Regions from separate parts of the Homo sapiens genome. Here all the other regions are linked to region 2. The links come from fine-mapping of genetic effects on gene expression. A gene starts in region 2. Each other region holds a variant in brackets. All regions are shown on one strand. Distances are between the middles of the regions. Region 1 overlaps PTP4A3 (protein tyrosine phosphatase 4A3). Region 2 holds the start of PTP4A3 (protein tyrosine phosphatase 4A3). Region 3 overlaps LINC01300 (long intergenic non-protein coding RNA 1300). Region 4 overlaps GPR20 (G protein-coupled receptor 20). Region 5 overlaps LOC105375789 (a long non-coding RNA gene). Region 6 overlaps SLC45A4 (solute carrier family 45 member 4).

Region 1 (4,088 bases), 23 kb before region 2:
ACCACCCACTCTGTGCCCGCCCTGGCCACCCAGGGCCCTCAGAGCAGGGTGGAGCGGCAAGGGTGGTACCCCCAGCACAGGGTCCCTGGAGGTGTGGCCCTGCTTGCAGCTCTCAAACAACCTGGTCCCTGCAATCTGAGGTCATCAAGGGGCCCAGCTGAGAGCACGACCCCCCCTCCCCCTGCCAGGCTCTCCCCACCCACACTTCCAGAAAACATCACCATCAGCCTGGCCCAGCTGTGCCGGCAACCCTCGCCTCCTCCCACCTCCAGGTGGGCAAGCAGGCTGGGGAGCAGAGGACAGGAGGGCTGTGCCCAGTCTGAAGGGCCCCATGGGAGCCTCCACCCAAGGGCACACCAAGCCAGGTAGCCCTGCCTGCCAGCTCATGGACCCCCAAGGGTGTGAGCTCCCTGGCAAGGGCACCCACCCACGTGGGTGCACCCAGCTCCACAGGGAGACGCTAGGCTCTGACTCCTGCCCAGTGCTCTCAGCTCACCACTTCCAGCAGCGTCTCCCTGAAGGTTGAAGGCAAGAATGGGTCAGCTTCAGGGACTCTGCCCCACCAATCTCCAACCTCAGCCACTTTCTAAGGATACCAGGCTAGACACTGCATTCCACAAGCAAGACACACACCTGCCACACTGCACTGACAAACCATAACAGCACAGAGAAGCTGAGCAACCCTTCTGAGTCACACAGCCAGAAGGCAGAAAAACCACATTTGGAGCTGGGTCTTGCTGCCCCCGAGACCCTGCTTATCCCCACCCTAGCCCTCTGGGAGAGAGGACCTCTGGGGTAAGCTGCTCCTGCCCCCCAGCCTCAGTTTTCTTATCCATAAAAGGGGTCTCAGAGTGAAAGTTCCCATCAAGCTCTGTGATGCTACAACCAGACAGAGCCCGTCGCCTCTGGCGCTACAAAAGTGGACCCCAGCATCCTCATCACCCCCACCCGGGCTCCACCCCCTTGCCTGGGGCCCTCTGGCCGGGCCTGGGAGGCACCTGCTGCAGCTGGCACAGCCCCAGGCCTTTCGGAGAAGTCTATTTATAACCAGGCAGGAGCCGTTCCTGGAATCCTCCCAGAGCGGGCCCAAGTCCGCCCATTGCTAGGGGGGCCAGGAGGGGAGACCCAAGCAGGCCAAGCCCACGCTTGATGCACTAGGACGCCTTCCCGGAGTCCTCCAGGCCCCTGCACTCGGCAGCTCCAAGGGCCCAGCCTCCTCACTGCCACATCCCCCCATGCCATCCCATCCCCTCTCCCCACCCCACCCCACACCCTCTCCCCACCCCACCCCACACCCTCTCCCCACCCCACCCCACCCCAGTCCCCACCCCACCCCATCCCCTCTCCCCGCCACGCCCCCTACCCTTCACCACCCCTGCCCCCTGCCCCCCCGCCCCGCCCCCTGCCCCCCGCCCTCCGCGCACGTCAAAAGGGCCCACCCGGAGTCATGTGGGAGGCGGGGGCGCGGGGCTGGGCACTCCCCCGAAGGATCCCGGAACGCTCCGGCTGGGGCCTCGAATAGGGACCGGGGCCGCAGGGTCCCAGGGCTGCGGCGGGCACCCTGGTCCCGGCCAGAGGGCAGGAGGGTCCCTCCAGCGCTGGCCTGGGCTCTGGGGCCCACGGGGGACAGGGCGGTCCCTAGGGCCCTGTAACAGCGGGAGCGAGCGGGAGGGGGCGGGAGGGGGATGGCGCACGGAGACCCAGGCCCTGTAGTTGGGGTGGGGAAAGACTGGGGGCTGTCCAGGGCTCCGGCCTGTCTCCCCACTGCCTGCTGCAGGCTGGGAAGAGGGTCCCAGGGCCCGTTCCTTGCCGCGCTGGAGGGAGCCTCACTGCATCCCCACCACTTCCACCTGCCCACACAGAAGGGCCCGGACCCTGCAGCCTGCCCCGGCTTCACTCCCAGGTGGCAGCCCTGGGCTCAGCAGGCCCTCACTTCATCCTGTTGTCCCCATTTCCTCCAGGAGGAAGTGCAGGGAGACAGGGGAGGCGACTCAGTGGACCCCACCCAGGCCCCCCGCCACCCACACCCAACCCCCACCCCATATACACAACTTCTAACATAGTTCCTTCCGCAGGAAGTGGGAACTCCACCAGTGGAGGAGGGGCTGTTCCTGCAGTCCAGGGCCCGGG[T/G]CACTTGCCCCTCCCCCATCAGGATGCTGCCCTAGGCCTGGTGATATCAGGAGGGGGCGGAGCCCTCGTACCTCACCCTGGAAAGGATGAGGGGGCGTCTCTCAGGCCAGCCCAGCCCCCAGGACTCTACCTCCTGGGGCAGAGAGCGGTCACTAAGAAGTCCACCCTTATCCCTGCTCCCCCCAGCCACCAAGACAGCTGCGCCATAACTCACCACCCCCTGCCTAGGCACCCGATCCACCTGTGCCAGTCTGGGGCTGCCCAACAGTCCCTACCCCCCCCCCAGTCCAGGGCTCTTCCCAAGCTCAGTGCCCGCATTCTCCTCAGCCACCTGCCCGAACCTCTCCTGCTCCTCAAGACCCCGGCCAGGTGCAGAGACTCACACACCTGCCACCAGGCTGCTGCTCCCACGTGCCCTCTGTCTGGCTGCCCTTCTCTCTCCCTACCGGGCCACCTCTTCCAGCCTCCCAGTGAGTGAACCTCCCCTGCCCCAGCCACCTTCCACCACTACAGTCCCAGAAGCCAGGTCTACCCACCAGGCTGGGCCCCCAGACCCTAGGGCCACACTCGGCCCCTTTTGATCTCCCCATGGGAGGATACAAATCTCAGGGGATTATTGTACACAAATGGCCTAATGTCCAGCGAGTGGACAGGACAGCTCCACAATGGCAGGCCAAGTCGGTGGCTCAGACAGGACTCCCAGTCCAGTGCTCATGCCTTACCTCCCAGGATGACTGAGAAGCCAGTGTGGAAACCGCCCAATGGGAAGCTCTGGCAAGCACACACACTGACCTGCATACACAGAGATGTGTGCTCACGTGCACACACACACACACACACACACGCCACAGAAACAGATGACCAGATCAGATGCCTGTGCCGGGAAGATGGGGACCCCATTGCCCCGCAGCAGTCCAGCCCCACGACGCCCACCAGAGCCTCCAGGGACACCGTGAGCCCGAATCCTCCATGTCCTCCTGTCCACACAGCATCTTTACACCAAGAGCCCTGAATCCTCCATGTCCTCCTGTCCATACCGCATCTTTCATCTTGCCTGGAAGGCCTCTGCCCAGGCTGGAAGGAGGATGGCACAGCCACACCAGCTGTGGACCAGTCACTGCCCTCCCTGCGGCAACCCTGACCCATCTTGGAACAGACACAGCTGGACTCCTGAGTGTTTCCAAAGCCATGGCGTCTGTAACATGCAGGTTCCCAGGCCACACCCAGACCAGGTGCCCCACTCACATGCGCACACGTGGCCCCACCTTGCCCTGGGCAGGAGGGAGCCGTGTTCTGACGGCCCTAACCCTCCCTGCCCCCAGCCTCCCACCCCAGAGCTCTGTTATAACACACCTGCCAGCAGCAGCTTCCGTTAAGAGCCAGTCGCTCTGGAGTACGGGGTGTTGGGTCGGAAATTGTGCGGCTCCAGGATTCCAGACAGGAGGAAGCCCACATGAAGCCTGCCCTGGCCCTGGCATTAGGCCTGCATGCCCACGGTCCTGCTGCCTTCCTCCTGGGCCCCATTTAGCCAGTGCCATGCCACCCACATCCAAGGCCCCTGAAGGCCAGTACCCAGAAGTGGGCATGGTGTCCCGGAGGGCATGGAGTTTCATTCGGAGCTCACAGCCTCTGAGAAGGAGCCTCTCCCCGCCCCAGTCCCTGAGGCCCTGCCAAGAATGCAGAGGCCCCCAGCAGGCCCAGAGGAGGCCCCTGATCTGGCCTCCCGGAGAGTTCAGGGCCTCCCTGGCACACCAGGCACAGCCCCTACCCCTTCTGTGCCACACACCAGTGGACCCTCAGCAGACACAGCTGACTCCAGGGCAGGAACCGACCCCCAAGCTCTCCAAGGGTCCGCATGGCCTGATGGTCCCTCCTGCTGGCCGGAGGAGGCTGCCCAGGAAGGTCCTCACCCACCAGCATCAGCCAGAGGCCCCAAAGTGGTCCACAACAGGGGAAGG
Region 2 (4,000 bases):
TGGAGGTGGGGAGAAACGGTGCTCTCGAGGTGAGAAAGCGCCCTGGGGTGGTCTGGGACAGTGACCATCTGGTTACAGCCTTTGGTCAGATTTGGGACCTTCATGGAACAAGGCAAGCCCAAGGTCTTGGGGGGCGAAAAATCACCACTATCTGCCAGCCCCAGGCCCAGGAGCTCCCAGCTCAGCCCCTCTGGCCAAATGCCACCTGGACACCAGCCTGGTACACTTTCCACTTAACTCACCCTTTCGCCAGGACCTGCCAACCAGGGAGAGGCCTCCCCAAGCTGTATCACCGCCATCTGGATGTAAGTCCCTAAGGAGGTCACGTGCATAGGCATTGGGCACCAGCGGACACTCTGCCCACCCTGGCGGTGAGAGGGAGGGCTCACACCAGCTTATGCCCCCCTCTCAGTCTGACTGTGTGCACCTCTGCCCAAGTCCTCAGCCAGTAAAGTCACGTCTGTGTAGCTTGGGAGTAGTTACACCACAGAAATTGGCCAATGCCAATTCAGGATTTGGTTAAGCATCTGTTAAGCATGCCCTCATGTCATCTTTGAGCCCAGCCACCCATGGTGCCTCCAAGACCTCCTCGCCATCCAAACTGCCCACTTGTCTGAGAAAGCTGCCCACCTCCCGGCCTTCCTCCTGCCTCCCATGTCCAGTGCCTGACTGCATCAGCCAGCCACCCTCACCATGTTCTGGGCTGTTACTTGGGACAGAGAGGGGACCAGCTGAGGCCCCCAGCCTTACTCCAGTGGTCAGCGCAAGCTTCCGGGAGGAGGGCAAAGGCAGAGAGGAGCAGGCAGCTGAGGAAACCACCTGGAGGCTGCATCTCATCCCCGCCTGCATTTTCTCCCATCACGCCGACTGCCTGCGGGGGCCTGTCCGCAACCTGCCCCGCTCAGCCAGCCAGCCATGCCCCATCTCCAGGTCCAGCATTGGGCCTGGCACAGAGTAAGTGCTTGGAGAACACGTTGGGGGTGTTGAGGGGTGACCAGCTCCCTAGCGGGGCTATTTGGAAACAGCCCAGGAATTCCTACACAGGGCAGCTTCTCCTCCTTCGTAACCACAGTGAGGGGGGCCGGCGTGGTGATGGGGAGATCCCCAATGCCTAATTCCACTCAGGTGACAGGTTCGGGGCCCATTTACAGCAGCTCCAACGCCCCCTTTGCAGATGGGGACAACAAGGCTCTGCTTAGCCCCGCAGGCTAGGGGCTGCACCAACTCCACCTTTGTGGGCCTCAGTCTCCTCATCTGAGAAATGGGGTTAACGAACTTCTTGGGAGGATTGCAGGAACTCAGTGAAGCACGGCTCTGCACAGGGCTGCCAGGCGGCTTCTGTCTGTGCAAGGCCACAGGCACCCTGTGTTCAGTGACCTCCTCTGGTCTGCAGCCGAGGACACTGCTCCAACCTGGGAGCAGGGCCCCCAGGGTCCACAGACTAGGTGGATGCCCAACACCCACCATCGTGTGCGGGGCACACCCCAGAGCCCGCAGGCAGAGAGAGGGGGTGCAGCACGTGCCTTTCTGTCTTGGCTGAGGGTGCCCGGGCACACACTGTGACCAGCTAGCCTGGACCTCACGCTGCCCTTGGAGCCGCTATCACAGAGGGCCAGGGAAGCCTCCCTCATAAAGGGCTTCCCTCCGGGAACCGGCAGGGTGAAACTGCTCTGCCCACTTGGAGCTAAGCATGCCACCACCCCACCCCTGGGCCACCAGCTGCCCAGGGGCGTGTCAGGAGTCACCCGTTTAATCCCTGAGGCACGTGGATCAAGGCTGCTGACCTGATTCTACCGGGGTGTGCTTGGAGGGCTGAGGCGCCGCCCGAGTCCCAACACTGGTATGGTCTGAGGCGGACTCCACCCGGCCTGAGACCTGACGCTCTGCTTTCCCCTGACCTCCACTGACATCTACGACCCGCCCTGGAGGCACGGAAGGCTGTGGGGTTCCAGCCCCCCAAACTGTGCAGCTGAGGAAAATGAGCCGTGAATGGGGGCAGAGCCAGATCCTGGGCGGGACCCTGCGCAGGATGAACTCAGGGTAGGAGGTCTCCCGCGCACCCAGAAACGGGAGCGGGTCACCCCCTTCCAGCCAGGGGTGTTCTGTGGCTCGCCTGGGGAAACAGCGGCCTCCTGAGGCTCGGCCCCGGCACGTGGCAGCCTCCAGGCCCACGTTCCCGCCGGATCGGCCGCCAGGCGCAGGGTCCCGGGACGCGCGGGCAGGGGGAAGGCGGCGGCCCTCCCGGCTGCGCGGCCCCGAAGCCGTGCCCGGAGCGGGCGGCGGGCTCGCGCGCGGACGGCCCCCCACGCGCCTCCACAAAGCGCCGCGCGCCCCCGCCCCGAGCGGGCGCGGAGGAGACTGACCTGGCGGTCCGGGCGGCGCCGGCACGACGGGTGGAGGGCTCGGGACGCGCGCGCCCTCGCGCACAGGCGCGGCCGCGGCTCCACCGGCTTAGGGCGCGCGCCGGACCCGCTGGGTCACGTGGGGGCACGGCCCAATGGGAGCGCTCCCCACGCCGCGGCCGCGCGCCCGCCGCCCCCGAGGCCGCCCCTGGGCTGGGAGGAGGCGGCTCCGGTCGCGCGGGCGGCCTCGGGGACTGACCTTGGCTCCTGTGCCTGCCGGGCGCCTAGGCCAGGTCGGCCTGGGGCAGGCGGGCGTCGGAGGGGCAGTTTTGAAGCCCGAGCGAAGAGGCAGAGGGCGGGATGCGGACGAAGCCAGGGAGTTCACGAAACTTCTGGAGTTCTCAGTTTCCCCCTAAGTCGACTGGGGCTAGGTCCCGTGCCGCCAGGCGGGCTGGCTGAGGGGATGGGCTGGGGCGACAAGACGGCAGCCGCCTGGCCCGGGTACTTGGGGTCAGACCGGCTTCGAGGCCCCCGGACCGCCGTGTTATCAGGACGGGTAGGGAGCCCACGGGACGCGTGGTGCTCAGAAGAGCGGGGAGGCGTGTGGACGGGGCCTGCCCGAGCTGCACCACCGCCTGCCTCCAGGCTGCGAGGCCCGCCCAGGCGAAGGCGGCATCTCAGCCTCTAGCCCTTGGGGACCTTGAGGACGTCCTCTTATGGGTCAGCCGTTCCTAGGGAGGCTTGTGGCTCCAGTTACTGGAAAAACCAGTGCTGGTTCACGCAGGAGGCCCCAGTACAGGGGGAAACAGAGGCAAGCTGGGGTCTCCCAGGCGGCCTCACCCACCCAGCCCTGTTCCATGCCAGTCCCTGGACCCTTGGCCCAGTCAGATGTTCAACTGCTCCAGCCCTGCCTCCACTTCCCTGAAAGATGCTTTTCCACCCATCCACCCTCAGCAGCCAGAGGGACCCCGGGAAGATGGGAGTGAGAGCTGCCTTCGTCTGCAAAAGTCTCCAGACACCACCTCACTGGTGAAGGCCAGAGACCCTAAACTGTCCCAAGACCACCTGACTGGGCTGCCTCCCTGCCACCTGGCTGCCAGCCTCTCTCAGAGCGCCTGCAAGCTATTCCTCCAACCCAGAGTTTCCTTCCCAGCTAAAGGCCTTTGCACCTGCTGTTCCTTCTGCCTGGAAGTTCACCGCAGACTATCCCAGGGCCTCCATCCTTCCCATTGCATGGTCCCCATCAGCTGCCGCCGCCTCTGAGAGCTCAGTCTCCACTGGCCATCCTGTCTCTCAGCCCACTGCACTCTCCACTCTGCCAGAAAGTCCCCCAATCAGTGACAACACAGGTCACGGTCCACACCTCACCTGGTTTGTCCCCAGTGCCCAGCATCTGGCACCGAGCAGGTGCGTGCAAATCCTGGACAGGTGGGCAAGCTGATGGTGTCCAGAGGCCCCTGGTCCTTAAGGGCAGGGGTGGGGATGGCTCAGAGGACATAACCTTGCAGACCCGGGTTCAAATCTGGGCTCCTCAGCTCATTTGGTCCTCACACAGCCCATGTTGGGAGAGCTAGTGTTCTCCCTGTTTTGCTGATGAGACACAGAGAAGGTCAGCAACTCCCGAAGATTGCCCAGCAAGTTGGGAGTAAAGCTGGTGC
Region 3 (4,100 bases), 48 kb after region 2:
TGCACTTGTCGGGGGAGCCAAGAGCCCCCACGGCCATCCATGGTCCTCAGGTTAAAAACCTCATTCATCACCTGTGAGCCCAGAGAGGTCAGAGCCCCCCACCCCGAGTCACACAGCCTGGCAGCCGAGACCGCTGTGTGGGCAGGAGTGAGAAACCAGCCTGAGGGCTCAGATGTCCTGACAGGCAGTCCTGAGCATTGCCAACCAGATCACTGGCACCTGCCCCAAAGCCGGTGGCAAGGGAGAGAGTGCTTGGGTGTGTGTCACTCGGCGGTCTCTGGCCCCTTGGGTCAGGCAGAGGGGACAGGCCCCACCTGTAGGGACAGAGGGAGACAGTGACAGTGTCCAGTAGACCCTGGCCCGACAGCTGGGCCACGCCCCTGCCTGTGTATCCATCTGCCCCACTGTGGTTCAGCTGAGGGTGGACTGGCCTGGCAGGTGGGCACAAGGCCCGGGCCCCAGATTCCTGGAGAGGTCGGTGGGAACTCCTGTCAGGGGGCCCCAGGGAGCGGGCAGTGTGGCCACTGGGCCCTGACACCCTCTGGGGAGCCAAGGCAGGGCCAGGCCAGGGGTCTTTCCAGCCCACTCCCGCTCCCGGGCTCCGAGTCGCCTGCCAGCTGTCTCACTTCCTTCCTGTCCACTGGCCCGCAGGCCACCTGCTGCCACCTTCTCCAGCACTTGCTCTGCCTCACCCATAGGCCTTTGCTGGACTGCGGGAGGCCGGAAAGATGGAAACAACTCCAGAACCCCAGAACCTTGATTCTTTTTGTTTGTTTTTAGTTTTGAGGCAGGGTCTTGCTCTGTCGCCCAGGCTGGAGTGCAGTGGTGCAATCACAGCTCACTGCAGCCTTGACCTCCTGGGCTCAAGCGACAGCCACCCTCACCCCAATGCCCACAGTAGCTGGGACTACAGGCACATGGAACCATAGTCAGATCTTTTTTTTTTTTTTTTTTTTTTTTTTTACTTTTAGTAGAAATGGGGTCTCAACATGTTGCCCAGGCTGGTCTCCAATTCCTGGGTTCAAGGGATCCTCCTGCCTCAGCCTCCTAAAGTGCTATAATTATAGGCATGAGCCACTGTGCCTGGCTGATTCTTTAAACCAGGATTTGAAATCCTTTCTTCATATCTTGTCCCTGCAATAGCTAATAGTTCTAGAACCTTCTATCCATTCACTTCCCTCTTCCCCTGTGGCATGACCCCCACAAGTCTCTCACAGAGGAAGCCTCAGGCCACAGTGCTTACCAACGACCCCTCTAAGGGGACAAGTTGGGGGCCAGCCTGAGGGAAGGGGCTCCCACTGTGTCTGTGTGGGAGCCCTTGGGAGACGATGCTGGCCCAGCAGGGTGGGTTCTGGGCCTGTGGGGGAAGGTGGAGATGCCACACCTGAGAGCCAGCCCAGGGGTCCGTGGGGCCACAGGTGCAGGGGAAGGTGGACAGGACGAGTGGTCAGATACACTGCCCACCCCTAGGGCCTACCTGAGCCCATGCTAGGTACGTAGTGGGGCTGTGTTTGCGGGGCTGGGACCAAATCCCAGGTCCAGCCCTTGACTGTTGTGTGACCTTGGAGCAGGTGAGTTCACCTCTGTAAGCCTGTTTGCTCCTTAGTAAAACAGCCATACTCACGCTAAATTCTTGGGTGGTTGAGATGAAATTGTGGGAAAGGGACAAGGCATTCAACTTAGCACCACACACAGCCCATCTATCATTCAGCAAGCATTTATTGAGCACCTACTATAAGCCTTGGCATGGAATCAGGATGAATGAGGGACAATCCCTGCCCTCAAGGAGCCCGCAGCTGCAATCCCGGGCAGTGAGGGCCTGTCGGAAATGTAAGCTGGGCTCAACTGCCTGCTAGAGAGGTGGGGAAGGCTTTCCGGAGGAAGTGACATTTAGCTGGGTTTTGAAGGATGCGTAGGAGTTTGCATCTGGAAGGGCATCTGCTGCAGCAGGAACTGTCGGGGCAGAAGTGGAGATGCGGCTGTGTAGTGGAAGCACAGAGGCACAGGGGTCACAGGGCCTGGCCGGCTGGCAGAGGAACCTCAGGAAGGTCACCTCCCCTCTCTGGGCCGCAGTTTCCCTGTCTCTAAATGAGGATAAGCGCGCCCGCCTCCCAAATGGGACAGTGGCTGTGGCAAGCGCGGGGTGAATGCTAATGTTCCCTATTTAATTTTCCATGTTCTGTTTTGAGGCCAGTCAGGGTTATTTCTGTCCACACTCAACTATTTCCAGGCCCAGAGTCCTCCTTTCCCACAGAGGACAGCGCTGGGCCTGCCCCAGCCCACTATCTACTCCCAGGCCGTGGTGGGAGGCCAAGGGCAGGGGGCACCTGGAGAAGAAATGCAGACTCAGGATGGATCAGAGGCAGGGTGGGGACCCAGCCACCCCAGGAAGCCCAGGGCTCCAAGGGCCCCGTTTGGTGTGCCCAAGGCCGAGCAGCCCAGTTCCAAGCCCCTTTTCCAGGTGAGGTGGGACGGAGGCTCCCATGTAGTCAGGGGAAGAGAGCAGAAGC[A/G]TTTACCACACCCCCCAGGACTGCCCCGCTGCTGCCCGGCCTGCCCAGGCGAGGAATCTCCCCATCCCCACAGCCACAGCCTGGTGTGCCCCACCCGGCCTCCTCCCTGTTCTCTCAGCTTCCCGGTTCCCACCATCACCCCCATTCTGGCCCAAGGGGCTGACCCTGGGGTGTGACATCAGGGAAGACAAGAGGTGGGGTTAGGGCGCTGCCTGACCTCCTACAAAACAAGCTGCCTTCCTGGTAGCCCTGGGCAGCTGGCCCAGGGATGGCCCATGGGGGCCCCGCCCTCCAGCCAGGTTACCTGCTGCTGGCCAAGAAGCTGGGGTGCTCTGGGCTGCCTCCCTGTCCCTTCTGCAAAGCCCCTGATCCCCACAACCTCTCTCCCACCCTGAGAGCCTGCCGGGGGTTCCTTCCTGGCCATCCCTGGGCTCAGCCTCCTTGTCGTGGGGCACAGGATTGGGTGGCAGGAAAGAACAGGGGGGGCTGGGGCTGGGGCACAAGGGGGGCAGGGAAGAGACACAGAGTGGAAGGTGGGGAGGGACAGGCACAGCTGGAGACGACAGTGTGTGGGGGCTCCGGGCAAACACATCTCACCTCCAGCCCGTTCTGAGCAATCCATCAGTGTGGCTGCCCCTGGAACGTGCGGGGGCACCAAGGCGGAGTTGCAGAGGCTGTTACTGATATGTGTCGTGGGGTGAGTCGGGGTGGGGGACGCATATCCCCACTCAGAACTCTGCATCGTAGATCCCATGCGTCTTGACACCTTCGTCTGCTAACATCTAGAAACCTTAGCATTTGAGAACCTTCAGATCCAAGGGTTCTGAGAGCTTAGAATTGTAGGATTTGTGAATTCTAGAAACAAAGGCAAGAAGATCACCCGTAGGGTGTCTCCTCTGCTCATGCAGCCTGGAGGGACCTCTCGGTGATCCCCGGCCGACCCCTCCCCAGCACTCAGCCCAAGAACCAGCCTCAACCACCTCCCTTCCCAGCTCAGCCTCACCTGCTGCCCAACCTGCAATACCTCCTCCCATCTCCCATCCTCAGACAGCCCATCCCTCCTGCAAGGTCCAGTCCGAAGTCGTCACCTCCCCCAGGAGGCCCACCCGTCCTCCTCAGCCCAGCCTGACTCTCAGGATCAGGCTCACCCTGCGGAGGCTGAAGCCACCAAGTCATAGTCCCAGTCCCAAGGGGAAGACAGGCCTGGAGCAGGGAGAGGTGTGGGCAAGAACACAGCCTCCGTCCCACAAAGAGGAGTTCAAACCCCCGCTCCAGCCCAAATGGCCCGGGCAGTGCCCTCACTCGTCTGCTTCAGCAGCCTCACCCGACTACTCACGATGGCTGCAGGTGGAAACTGCCCACGCATCTCTCAGCAGCTGAAAGGATGACTCCACAGTGGACGATTACTCAGGTGTAAAAAGGAGCAAAGCACTGGCACATGCGATAATGCGGAGGGACCTGAAGCCACCGTGCTAAGTGAAAGAAGCCAGACACGAAAGGCCACATGGTGCTCACACCTCCAGAGATGTCCAGAACAGGCAAAGCCAGAGACAGAGCACAGACGTGCTAGCCAGGGCTGGCTTCCTTGGA
Region 4 (4,100 bases), 33 kb after region 2:
AACACCATGTCAGCACGATCAGGACACGGTGCCAGTCCCTGCCCATGAGACTCTGGCCAGTTGGCCCCCGCCATGGAGTCTGCTGTCTCAGACAGACCCAGGGTGCCTGCCAGGAAAGAGGGAGGAGACAGGACCATCTCCCCCACACCCAGGTTTGGCTTAGGGAAACTAGGCTTGGGGACAGGGCCCTGCCTCCCCTCTCCGGCCGGCTCTGAGGGTAAAACCATGCCTCTCCCCTCAGTCCAGGCTACCAGGGCGAGGCAGAGCTGTGGAAGGCACGAGTGACCCCATTCAGCAGATGAGGACGGCCAGCCTACTGACCAGGCCCAGGTCTCAGCTGAGGGAGTGGCAGGGCTGGACTCAAACCCGGGTCTCTGTGCTGGTGACTGCTCATCACCCGGGCCCTCCGGAGAGCAGAGTCTGTGCCTCTCCCACAGGCAGAGCCAGGCTGTCCCAGGAGGGGCGGAACCTTCTCCTTTCCCCAGGCACTCGCCAGGGAGCCACTTCCATGGGCCCCTGCAGGGTCTAGAGTCCCCGCTTGCATTCCTCCTCCTTCTGAACAAAGAGGGTGGTGAGTGGGAGCCCCAGAGAGGCCCCGTAATAATCGAATCGGGACATCCGTCGCTGTGGGAGGCAGGTGGGGGTTGACAATATGGAGACAGAGACAGCCAGACGAAGCTGGGAGAGGAGGGCAGAGACAGGGACAGAAGGTCCGGGCTGAGGGCCCAGGTCGTGGCTGGGATCAGGGCTCAGAGCGCCACAGGAATCAACGCCCATTGTGCTATTAGGATTGGGGTCAGTGTGTGACCAGGGTCAGGGCTCAGAGTGGGACAGGGATCGAGGTTCATCACATTACTGGGATCATGGCTCAGTGTGTGACCAAGATGAGGGTTCAGCTTTGTTTGAGATCAGGGTCAGACCCTTAGTGCGGGGAATCAGAGCATGCTTTGCTAGCTCCCTCTCCTCTCCGGTCTGGCCTCTGGGGTGTCCAGCACATTCTGCCCATCCCCCCAGCTCCAGAGACCGCAGAGCCCCCACATCCCTAGCCAGGACCCCAGCACCGCAGCGTTGCTGGTGAGCCTGCTGGGCTGGCCCTGGGGAGTTTTCTGGGACAGCAGAATTCCCAGGGGCCAGCATCACCCTGGGACTCACTCCCACAGGAAACGTTCTGTGTTGTTTATGATTTGTCTCTGATTGGGACACTAATATAGGCCCCGTGCAGACAAATTGGAAAAGCAAAAGGCACATAGAAAGGAATCCCAAAATACTTTTTTGGCCATGCAGTCCCTCAGTCCAGCTGCAAAGCCGCCTCGACCTTTTCTGAGAGCGTTTCATCCACAGCAGGGGAGGGACGCATCTCTTTCGGGGGGACCTTCTGGGGCTCCTGAAGCCCACAGCCCTGAGACGCCAGGTTCCCAGCCCCCATGTGCCCAGCCTCCTCTCCTCCCCTGGCTGCCTGCTGTGCCCCCAAATCCCGTCTCTGGTGGCACACCTGGGCTGAGGGAGGACAGACCTATTCATCCAACAAATGCACCCATCAATGCCCGCGTGTCAGGGCCTGGAGATAGAGAGCTTGCTTGCAGTCGGGGGGAGCTGGGAGCTGAGCCTGGGCCCTTGTGTGGTGGGGGTGGCAGGAGGGGCTGGGCACAGGCCTGGGCAGCACTTGACTCCTCCCAGCAGCCTCCAGGGTAGCACGCACCCAGGGCTGGGGTCCCAGAGGCAGAGGGCATGCTGGGTGACCTCATGCAGGCACTGACCTCTCTGACTCTGAGGAAGAAGGTGGCCGCCGACTGGAGGGACCTGGCCCTCTGAAAGCAAGAGTTCTTTTGCTGCCCTGAGCCAGGCCAGGGGCTGTTTGAAGGCAGGGCTCATTGTTCCCCAGGGGTGGGATGGGGCCACGCACTGGTCAGAGGGAGTGGCGGGGCACAGCCTGTTTACAGCAGGGGCCACCAGGAGGGGAAGGGGTAAGTGTCCTCCCTTCTCCAGCAGGT[G/A]GGGGAGGGGCGCTGTGCAGAAGAAACGGCCCACGAGCCTCCCCACCCTGCTGGCCCCAAAGACTTCTCCTTTCTCCTGAAAAAGCCAGAAATGCCCTTATTTGGAGGGTCAGCCCAGCTGTAGGGTGGGGGTAGGGCCGTTAACCCTTCATTTATAAATAGAGGGATAAATCACTGCCGAGTTAAACACGCCAGGGCAGGAACATAAACAGAGTGGGTGGCTCCGGCACAGCCCCTCGCCCGCCCCCCACCCTGGCCCCCCTGCCCAGGCCAGACGGGAGCTCGGTGTTTATTTGACTCACACTCTGGCTCCAGGCTTCAGCCCCAACCAGCCACCCCACAGGGGCCTCTGTCTCCTTTTCTGTAGTTTGGGGGGATCATAGGGGTGCCCGCCTCTCAGGGCCAGTAGGAGCCTGGGGTGCCCAGTGAGACTGGTCCTTGGCTCCCATGCAGCCCCACTGGACAGCCTAATTCCCTTTGTAAAGGTCCCTCATGAGGACCCCCATCCAGGGCATTGACCTGATGCTGGCCTAGGAGGAGGGGAGAACAGATGGGTGGTCCCGGAGGATGGGGGCCATGACGGTGGGTGTGGGGACAGGGGAGTGGGCAGGGCAGTCAGAGGTCCCCACCATGAACAAGGCTCTGTCCCAGCAGAACTGGGTCATCAGCCACCAACTCTGCTGGCGCTGCCGTGCTGACCCGCTTGCTTAGTCACCCCAGCAGCAACGCGATCCCAGTGACATGGATTAGGAAGCAGGTAGAGAGGTTAAGTGGCCTACCCGAGCAAGCACACTAGTCAGTGGCACAGCTGGGGCTGGAGCCAGGCCCTGGAACTGCACACTGGAGCCCCGTGGTCTTGCCCTTATCAGCTCTCCATCCCGAGGACAGCCCTGCACCGCACGTGTTTCCGCCTCCCCCTCGTGCCAGGACGGTCGCAGAAACCTCCGTATTTTGTCGAGTCTCCACGCTGGCAAGTGCCAGTCCTGGAATTTGAACACGCGTCTGACTCTGAAAGCCTGTGCCTTTTCTGCTGCTGTCCGAGGCTCCCTCTGGGTAGAGCCAAGGGAGCAGGCATTTGAGGCCCCAGCCAGGCGAGGGCATGGAGAAGGGGGATGCTGGGCGTGCAGGGGCAGACGGGCCAGCTGAGTTCTGGGCCTCAGGGCAGGGCTTAAGGCCAGGCTGGCGCCTGGGGTGACCTGGTCTCCTTGCTTCCAGGCCTGGGGTGTGCTGGCTGCCGTCATGCCCTCTGTGTCTCCAGCGGGGCCCTCGGCCGGGGCAGTCCCCAATGCCACCGCAGTGACAACAGTGCGGACCAATGCCAGCGGGCTGGAGGTGCCCCTGTTCCACCTGTTTGCCCGGCTGGACGAGGAGCTGCATGGCACCTTCCCAGGCCTGTGGCTGGCGCTGATGGCGGTGCACGGAGCCATCTTCCTGGCAGGGCTGGTGCTCAACGGGCTGGCGCTGTACGTCTTCTGCTGCCGCACCCGGGCCAAGACACCCTCAGTCATCTACACCATCAACCTGGTGGTGACCGATCTACTGGTAGGGCTGTCCCTGCCCACGCGCTTCGCTGTGTACTACGGCGCCAGGGGCTGCCTGCGCTGTGCCTTCCCGCACGTCCTCGGTTACTTCCTCAACATGCACTGCTCCATCCTCTTCCTCACCTGCATCTGCGTGGACCGCTACCTGGCCATCGTGCGGCCCGAAGGCTCCCGCCGCTGCCGCCAGCCTGCCTGTGCCAGGGCCGTGTGCGCCTTCGTGTGGCTGGCCGCCGGTGCCGTCACCCTGTCGGTGCTGGGCGTGACAGGCAGCCGGCCCTGCTGCCGTGTCTTTGCGCTGACTGTCCTGGAGTTCCTGCTGCCCCTGCTGGTCATCAGCGTGTTTACCGGCCGCATCATGTGTGCACTGTCGCGGCCGGGTCTGCTCCACCAGGGTCGCCAGCGCCGCGTGCGGGCCATGCAGCTCCTGCTCACGGTGCTCATCATCTTTCTCGTCTGCTTCACGCCCTTCCACGCCCGCCAAGTGGCCGTGGCGCTGTGGCCCGACATGCCACACCACACGAGCCTCGTGGTCTACCACGTGGCCGTGACCCTCAGCAGCCTCAACAGC
Region 5 (4,100 bases), 53 kb before region 2:
AGGCAACTGAGGCTCAGAGAGGGTCAGAGGCTTCCCCTGGGCCACACAGCATGTCCATGCAGAGGCGAACTGGGCTCACCCATGGGGCAGATGCCTTTCCATGCCCTCTTGGGCATCTCATTGGTCCTCAGCACATGCTCAGGCTGACATCACGGCCAGTTGCCCGCTCCCCCGCCCACCGTATTCTGGCCTCAGTAGGGCTGCCTGCCTTCATCTTCCCTCTGCACCAGGTCATATTTCCAAAAATCCAATAAGCAAGTCTAAAAACCGCTGGGGCCAACTCTTTTCATTTGTTTGTATTATGATGTGCGTCACGCAATTTGTCAGTTTTAACAGCTCTCCCCAAGGCAAGTCACTTAAAAAAAATGCCACTTCTTCTCATCTTGCCTCCGAATTCAAATGTGCACGAAGTTCCTTTTTTATTCAGTTCAACCATGCAAAATGCATGAATCTTTCCTAATAAGCTAATAAAACCTTCTCCTCCCGGAACGTGGGAGGGTTGGGAGAAAGCCTCACCCCGTCTGCTCCTCCCCCTGCTGGAATGTTCTTCCCCCAGCCATCCTGTCTCTGCAGGCTCTGCTCACCCGCACCTCACTGAGGCCTCCCCCACCACCCTCCAAAATAGCAGCCCCTTCGGCGCCTCCCACCCTCTGCTGCTTTATTCTCGCCGCAGCCCCGCCATCAGCTACCATCTGTGATCTGCGCCTTTTACCTGCTTTACTGCCCTCACCCATAGACTGGAAGGTCCCGAAGAGCCAGAGACATCTGTCTGTCTCTCGCGGGCTCCCCATACAGCAAGGACGTCTGTCTGTCTCACTGGGGGCTCCCCATACAGCAAGGACGTCTGTCTGTCTCACTGGGGGCTCCCCATACAGCGGGAATGTCTGTCTGTCTCACTGGGGGCTCCCCATACAGCGGGAATGTCTGTCTGTCTCACTGGGGGCTCCCCATACAGCGGGAATGTCTGTCTGTCTCACTGGGACCTCCCCATGCGGCTGAGACATCTGTCTCTCGCGGGTTCCCCCACCAGCAAGGACGTCTGTCTCTCTCAGGCCCCTCATACAGCTGGGACATCTGTCTGTCTCGGGCTCCTCATACAGCTGGGACGTCTGTCTATCTCTCTTGGGCTCCCCATACAGCTGGGACGTCTGTCTATCTCTCTTGGGCTCCCCATACAGCTGGGACGTCTGTCTATCTCTCTCGGGCTCCCCATACAGCTGGGACGTCTGTCTCTCTCGGGCTCCTCATACAGCTGGGACGTCTGTCTGTCTCTTTCGGGCTCCTCATACAGCTGGGACGTCTGTCTGTCTCTCTCGGGCTCCTCATACAGCTGGGACGTCTGTCTCTCTCGGGCTCCTCATACAGCTGGGACGTCTGTCTCTCTCGGGCTCCTCATACAGCTGGGACGTCTGTCTCTCTCGGGCTCCTCATACAGCTGGGACGTCTGTCTGTCTCTTTCGGGCTCCTCATACAGCTGGGACGTCTGTCTGTCTCTCTCGGGCTCCTCATACAGCTGGGACGTCTGTCTCTCTCGGGCTCCTCATACAGCTGGGACGTCTGTCTCTCTCGGGCTCCTCATACAGCTGGGACGTCTGTCTGTCTCTCTCGGGCTCCCCATACAGCTGGGACGTCTGTCTGTCTCTCTCGGGCTCCTCATACAGCTGGGACGTCTGTCTCACTGGGGGCTCCTCATACAGCTGAGACATCTGTCTCTCGTGGGTTCCCCCACCGGCAAGGACGTGTCTCTCTCTCGGGCTCCCCATACAGCTGGGACGTCTGTCTGTCTCTCTCAGGCTCCCCATATAGCAGGGACTTCTGCCTCGCGCGGGGCCACGGGTGGTTTCTGCTCAGGCCGCTCCGGGCAGGTTCTCCTG[G/T]AGCCCTGGAGGTGGCCCCGGCAGCTCCCGCAGCCCCAAGAGAAAAAACTCTCACCACGGGCACAGTCCTGGGCTCTGATTGGCCTAGCTTTGCTCACATACCCAATCCTGAACCAATCACCTTGGCCACAGGGGCCTGTGCGGCTCTGACTGGCCAGGCCTGGCTCCCACGCCCTCCAGGGAGCGGCATGGGCCCAGGCCTCTTCGACCACCGCGAAGGGGCCCAGGCTCCGGTTGCCAAACCAGCAGCCATGCCACCCAGCACCACCACGGAGCCAGGGAGAAAGGGAGGCCTGAGAGCAGAGTGACACCCAGGTGTATCCCGGTGGCTCACGGTCTGAGGTCCCTGCCAGGCTGCTGTGGCACTGTCAAGGTGGGGACAGGGGCCCAGAAGGACAACTGGATGAGCAGTGCTGAGTAGCCACTCTCTCTGCATGCCCAAAACGGTGGGGGCGGCACAGGACACCATGGGGCAGCAGGGGAGTCTTGAGGCCTGATGGGGCCAGCCCTGGGCCTCTGAAGTTCTCATGTCCTGCTTAGATGGACAGGCCTCTGGGACCAGGAAGCAGCGAGTGGGGTTGAGCAGGGCACCCTTCCCTGGGCAGGACTGCAACAGGTGCTGCCAGGCCTGCCAGAGGGGCCTCCCTCTCCCCTGCTCCTCCACTAACAAAGCCTTTTCCTTAGAGATGTTTCCTGCGTTGGTCAGTTCTCAGCTGGGTCCTCCTCCAGCCAGTCTCCACCCTGCCCCACAAAGGAATTCTCATTGTTCTCACACGTCATCCATGTGGGCCAACTCTATTTAATTCAAATGGGCTACATCGTTTCTCTTTATTTCGAAGGCACTCATCATTCTCACCCTCATCTCATCTTCATCTTTCCCTCTGTCCCCTGGGGATTTGGGGCCAAAGGCTTGTGATCAAAAGAAGAGGAGGAACTTCACACCCATTAGGTTGGCTACTGTCCAAAAAAAAATCAGAAAATGAGTGTTGGCGAGGATGTGGAGAAATCAGAAGCCTTGTGCACTGTTGGTGGGAATGTAAAACGGTGCAGCTGCTTTGGAACAGAGTATGGAAGTTCCTCCAAAAATTAAATATAGAATTACCATATGGCCCAGGAATTCCACTAATGGGTGTACACCCAAAAGAAAGGAAAGCAGGCACCTGGGACAGATATTTGTACGCCCTGCTCACAGCAGTGTTATGATAACCAAAAGGTAGAAGCAACACAAGTGTTCATCAATGGGTGAATTAGAATAAGCAGTGTGGTCCATCCATACAATGGAATACTATTCAGCCTTGAAAAGGAAGGAAATTCTGATGCTACAACATGGATGAACCTTGAGCACATTCTGCTGAGTCAAATACTGTGTGAGTCCACCTACTTAAGGTCCATGAGTAGCCAAATCTACAGAGACAGAAAGTAGAATGCTGGGTGCCAGGGGCTGGATGGAGGGAGAATGGGGAGTTAATGTTTAATGGGGACAGAGTTTCAGTGTGGGAAGATGAGAATGTTCTGGAGATGGATGGTGGTGATGGTTGCATAATATTATGAATATGCTCAATGCCACTGACCTGTACACTTAAAACGGTAAATTGTATGAGATGTGCATTTTACCACAATTAAAAATAAAACCAGAAGAGGAGGAGGTAATGGGAGAGGGAAGAGGGTCTCATGGACCCTCAGGCTGGGGAGGAGTATGGAAAGCAGAGGGGCTTTGCCTCCTCTTTCTCAGGTGCCTTTGCCCTCTCCGGGGCCAGAGTGGGGAAAGGACGGTTGGTCGAGTATGGGGCAGGCATCACTGGGATGCCAAGTGTCCAAAGAGGCTGCAGGCAGGCAACGACGTTGAGACCAGCAGGAACGGAGGATGGTTCCTTGAGTCCACAGCGAGGCAGAGACTCAAGGGGCTCCACCTTCATCGGTCTTGGGACTGCGTATGGATTTCAGGAGACACATGTCCTTGAGCATTGCCGGGGGTCCTGGGCTGGAGGTGGTTTTGTGTTCTATGGACCTGCAGGGGAGTTGGGCATGGATTCCCAAGAATGCTGAATCAGCCCATCTTTCTGGAAGCCCTGCTGGGGCTGCAGGGACAAGGCAATCTTGAAGAACAAGCCAATACAGTGCCCAAGAAGTCACAGGACCAGAAGCTTCTGGAGTCCTCCCAGAGCAAACAAAATGCCACTCCCCCCACCAAGTCCCCTTCTTCTGAAAACCATTGTCGCATTATGG
Region 6 (4,100 bases), 110 kb after region 2:
AAAGATTAGAATCCTTGTTTGAATGCTGAGCCACGGTTGAGATAACATCTTTGTGACTCTTAGACTTCACTCCAGATGACTGTCTGTCATAGATGGAAGGGGTGAGTGAGTTAAGGGGAACTAAGGCGTGGAACTTAGGTTTTTGATCAGTGTAGGATTTAATGTCTTTCACTAAAAAGGACAAAAGTACAACCCCTGTTGGCTCCGAGTCTCCCAAGCAGCAGCCCTGTTTCTCACTCCTTCTCGAAAGTGCAGTGTGCACTCCCCCGCCATCCCCGCCTCTGCCCCTTCTGCTCTCGCCCTGGCCTCTGTGCCCACTGTTCCCTGGCACCGCCTTCTCCGATCATCCTCTTCCCCAGGCCCTGACTCCATCGCGCACCTGGCTGGTTTCATGGCCGGCTGAGGCCCTGCTTATTCCTCTGGGACCACATCTCTGCCTCTGCCTCCCTCTTGGGAGCTGGGTTCCTTTCCTGGACCTCTTTTCCCACCCACGCCGAAGGATTAGCGCCTCGATGGTACTGACTCATCTCTGACTGCAGTCCAGACTGCTCCCCAAGTTCTTCTGCTGTGCCAGCTGCCTGGCCATCTGCATTTGGACGGGGAGTCCCACAGAAAATGTGGCTGCACGGGGACTTGTGCCCCTTGCCCTCGTCTTCCTGTCATCTTTCCCAACCCAGCAGTGGCTCTGCATGAAGTAGCCAGGGCCGGCACCCTCCGTGAGTGCCCCAAGAGCATAGGTTCCATCCAGTCCCTGCTGTGTGTCCAGCACAGACCTCAGGCAGTGTGACCCCGCTCACTGCAGCTTGCTGGGCCCTGGCTGCCTCAGTCCTGCAGGACAGGACAGTGCCATAGTCAGTACACAGGTCCCTGGCTGTGTGAAGTAGGCCTGTAGGAGAAATTCCTGTGTGTAGACTAGCTGGGCTCCAGAAGATCTAACTTGGTGGGGCAAGAGAAGTGTGCTTCTCATGAGCGGTCCAACCAGGCGTGGTCCCCATCAGACACGGTCAGGGCTTTTGCCTGGAGCCTTGTCCCGTGGTGGGTCACTCTGTCGTATGTGAAAATGTGGCGTACCGATGCGCTTGCAATTTGCATTTCTCTTACTGGACGTGAGCTTGAACACCCCTAAGTGCCATTTGCATCTCCTTTTCTGTGAACTTTCTGTTTCTGGTGTTTGTGTGTTTTGCACTGAGCGGCCAGCCTTCTGCAGGTTTTGAATGAGCTGCACAAGGGCAGCCCTCGAGGCTCTGAAGGGCAGCGTGAATATGAATTCCCAGCCTGTCTTAAAAAATTTAAGACATACTCAAGCCTGTCGCCCAGGCTGGAGTGCAGTGTAGTGGCAGGATCATGGTTCATTGCAGCCTAAAACTCCTGGACTCAAGCGATCCTCCCACGTCAGCCTCCCAAAGTGCAGGGATTACAGATGTGAGCCACCACCAAAAAGGAGGCTGTTGACATGACATAGGCTTGAAAGGGGCAAGGAGGGTGGGAGAAACGTGGGGGTCGGTGCAAAGCCGTCTAGTCCCCCTCGGTGGCTGGGCGCAAGAGGGTACGAGATGGAGCTGCTCCTTCTCTGAGCCCCGTCTTCCTCCAGGTGCCCCTGGCCCGGGCCCTCCTGTGTGCTACCCTGTGGACTGTGCCCTGGGAGGTCTGAGAGCCGTCTCCTCACCGCCCCACTGAGGCCCGTCTGCAGATGCTGGAGATTCTAGCTGTTCCACCCGGCTGCCTGCTTCTGCCCAGCAGAGAGCCTGCTGTACCTTGGCAGCTCTTGAACGGGGTGGCAGGTGAAAGGAGGCACTTTTCACCTGTTATGGCCTAAAGCATTCTCTCGCTAGACTGAAAAGATGCCGCACAGAAGATCCTTTTAAGCTAAATACATGCTAGTGTTCACAGAAAAGACAGTACTCAACTGTCTGTAATTGTCCAGTCAGCCAAGGAGGCCAGAAGCCCAGCGTCCTGGCCATGGAAATGGGAAACTCCAGACTTGCCGTGAAGGGTTAACGAGGGACTTTGGGGAGAAGGCCGGTCTGTGGCAGGGGCACAGTCTGCGCTCCGTGCCCTGCGTGTGGGTTATTTCCTCTTGTGAAAACACCTGTAGTATCCAGGTGACCTCACCTATCAGAGCATCAGAGCAGCTGAGTCAC[G/A]ATGCTGTAGTTAGTATCCGCCGGGAGAGGTTTTCATAGCTGCGGTTATGTCTTCTGCCTGTTAAAATCAGTCTTTTGAAGAAAGCATGAGCTGTGCTGAGTTTATAGTCTGTTTATTATAGGTTGCTGCTGGGCTCTGAAGGCCTCTCTCTCATGATGATACACACACCTTCGTGTGTGGTTTTCAGTTGTAGAATGAAAGCGTGTAGAAGTGGAAGGAACCGGGAAGTGCTCTGTTCACACCCTAAGGCCTCGCACATGACCTGGAGCGGTCAGGCGACTTCCTCAAGGTCACACGGTGCTTGGTCGGCCTCAGATGTTTTCTGATAGTCTTAGGATTTGGTGATAAAAATACTAACTTGGATGAGTTCAGGAGGGAGCCCCGTGGCCGCCAGCAAGAGAACTCTGCAGCTCCTCCCCACTGCAGCTGACATTGAACTATGGAGTTATTTTGGTTGGCTTCGTTGTAAGGTTTAAAGTAGTTTGTGAAGAGCAGCTGCTTCTATTTTTCCCAAGTCTTGAACTTAACTGGGGGAAGATGGGGAAGAGGTTGGAGGCCGTGGTATGGGGTCGGTGGTGGGGAGCGGGGGGGCGGGGGGGCTGCTGCTGATAAGCGAACAAGTGGGAAAGAAGTTAAAGTTGGGGCCTTACCCATTCCTGGGGCTCCTGGCTGATAACAGGGGGTCACATTTCTGGGGGGCAGGCTCTGAAGAAAGTGTGAGTAGGAAGCAGGGTCAAATGCAGATGGGTGCAGTTACTCTTTTAAATATTCAATGGGGGAAGTACTTTTCTTGTGAAGTATAAATTCCTCGATTTGCACCTGCCCTCATCTGGAAAGGGTTTCAAGTGGTTTAAGTAGGGCGTGTGGGTAAAGGGTGCCCCGAAAGGGACCAGGAAGATACATTGGCAGGCTTCTGCGCTTACCTGGCTCTGCTTGTAACAACCGCGCATGTGAGGCCACCTCTCGGACTGAGTTTCCTGAGGGCACAGATCCCATGTCTCACGCAGGGTGGTGAGGGTGGAGGCCTTTTCTGAACATGCAGTAAACCACCACCGCCCATTCTCCTCAGCTCCCGAGGGAAGGAAGGGGTGTCACAAGCCCATACCTCACCTTCCCGAGGAGGGGCTGTGGGCACCCAGTGCCTTGGGCACCCCAAGGGCTGGAGCCAGGCCTGTCTCCCCTTGTGCCTTTTTGACTCCTCTGGGCATAGCTCACGACCAGGAAGTCCCCAGCGGAGGGGAGCCAGTGTGTCCTTGGTCCCTGCAATGCAACTGCCCACGCCTGTGGGGTCAGTAACAAGAGCCACAGAGCCACGAGGTGCCGCTCACGTCTGCCCCCACCCCAGGCAACCGCAGGCCCCTTCACGCTGCTGGTTCTCCTGAGGAACAGTGTCAAGGAGGTGCCCGGCCCTGTTCTGTTGTGAGAAGCACCACACAGGTTCCAGAGGTCTTGAGGGTGCCCTACTGGGACCATGGCTAGAACTCACGATCTCACATCTTTAGGATGCACTCGGGAAAGACTGAAAGCCAAGGATGTGTTCAGGTGCCCTCGGCCGGTCAGAAGGGGGCACGGGGCGTTTGCAGACCCCTGCCCGGTGTCGTGCTTTCCGCCGTGGGTTGTGCTCCTGCCTCTCAGTCTTGTCCTGTTGGTCCTCGTTATCCCAGGGCGGCGCTTCCCTAACTTGGGGTGCGCGTCTCTTTGGGAAATATGTTTAAACGGACGTGGCCGTGGATGTGCAGTGGGTGGAGTGCAGACCTCACAGGACTTGTAAAGATGCATTTGTTGGAGGCTGACTGCTCGTGTGCGGTTTATACCCCTGGTCTTGTCTGAAGTGGGGTCCTTCCGCAGAAAAACATGACACACCGTGACCTCGGGCCAAGTGCAAGGCCGGTCACTGTGGAGTGGGGATTCGGTAAAGATTTAGTGAAGGTCGAACCCGTGTAACTGGGGAGCACACG

Evidence for each region. PIP is the estimated chance that this variant, and not a neighbour inherited with it, causes the effect.
Region 1: its variant is fine-mapped to the expression of PTP4A3 in T cells (TOPMed, PIP above 0.99). The same link has a PIP of 0.9 or more in blood mononuclear cells and whole blood.
Region 3: its variant is fine-mapped to the expression of PTP4A3 in whole blood (TOPMed, PIP above 0.99).
Region 4: its variant is fine-mapped to the expression of PTP4A3 in blood mononuclear cells (TOPMed, PIP above 0.99). The same link has a PIP of 0.9 or more in whole blood.
Region 5: its variant is fine-mapped to the expression of PTP4A3 in whole blood (TOPMed, PIP 0.94).
Region 6: its variant is fine-mapped to the expression of PTP4A3 in whole blood (TOPMed, PIP 0.93).

What each region holds. Positions count from the first base shown.
Region 1 is chr8:141,412,948-141,417,035 of GRCh38, reverse strand. All of the region lies in intron 1 of PTP4A3 (protein tyrosine phosphatase 4A3), which reads right to left. Among named protein-coding and RNA genes, the nearest start is that of ASTILCS, 22 kb to the right of the region's middle. RefSeq lists enhancers at 1,343-2,302, 784-4,088. The variant T/G (reference allele first, on the strand shown) is at 2,131.
Region 2 is chr8:141,390,448-141,394,447 of GRCh38, reverse strand. It overlaps PTP4A3 (protein tyrosine phosphatase 4A3), which reads right to left and starts at 2,427. Exons shown (of 6, transcript NM_032611.3): 1 at 2,364-2,427. It overlaps ASTILCS (antisense transcript of PTP4A3, liver carcinoma survival associated), which reads left to right and starts at 1,827. Exons shown (of 2, transcript NR_187488.1): 1 at 1,827-2,040; 2 at 3,297-4,000. RefSeq lists an enhancer at 2,735-3,355.
Region 3 is chr8:141,342,223-141,346,322 of GRCh38, reverse strand. LINC01300 (long intergenic non-protein coding RNA 1300) reads right to left here. Exons shown (of 4, transcript NR_024441.1): 2 at 3,847-3,982; 3 at 3,108-3,365; 4 at 1,702-1,979. Among named protein-coding and RNA genes, the nearest start is that of LINC01300, 3.7 kb to the right of the region's middle. RefSeq lists enhancers at 1-476, 3,650-4,100. The variant A/G (reference allele first, on the strand shown) is at 2,511.
Region 4 is chr8:141,357,054-141,361,153 of GRCh38, reverse strand. It overlaps GPR20 (G protein-coupled receptor 20), which reads left to right. Exons shown (of 2, transcript NM_005293.3): 2 at 3,207-4,100. The coding sequence starts at 3,231. Among named protein-coding and RNA genes, the nearest start is that of GPR20, 8.2 kb to the left of the region's middle. RefSeq lists enhancers at 981-1,577, 3,428-4,049, 4,050-4,100. The variant G/A (reference allele first, on the strand shown) is at 1,992.
Region 5 is chr8:141,442,956-141,447,055 of GRCh38, reverse strand. It overlaps LOC105375789 (a long non-coding RNA gene), which reads right to left. Exons shown (of 3, transcript XR_928722.3): 1 at 1-4,100. It also overlaps MROH5. Among named protein-coding and RNA genes, the nearest start is that of ASTILCS, 52 kb to the right of the region's middle. The variant G/T (reference allele first, on the strand shown) is at 1,875.
Region 6 is chr8:141,285,372-141,289,471 of GRCh38, reverse strand. All of the region lies in intron 1 of SLC45A4 (solute carrier family 45 member 4), which reads left to right. Among named protein-coding and RNA genes, the nearest start is that of SLC45A4, 21 kb to the left of the region's middle. The variant G/A (reference allele first, on the strand shown) is at 2,142.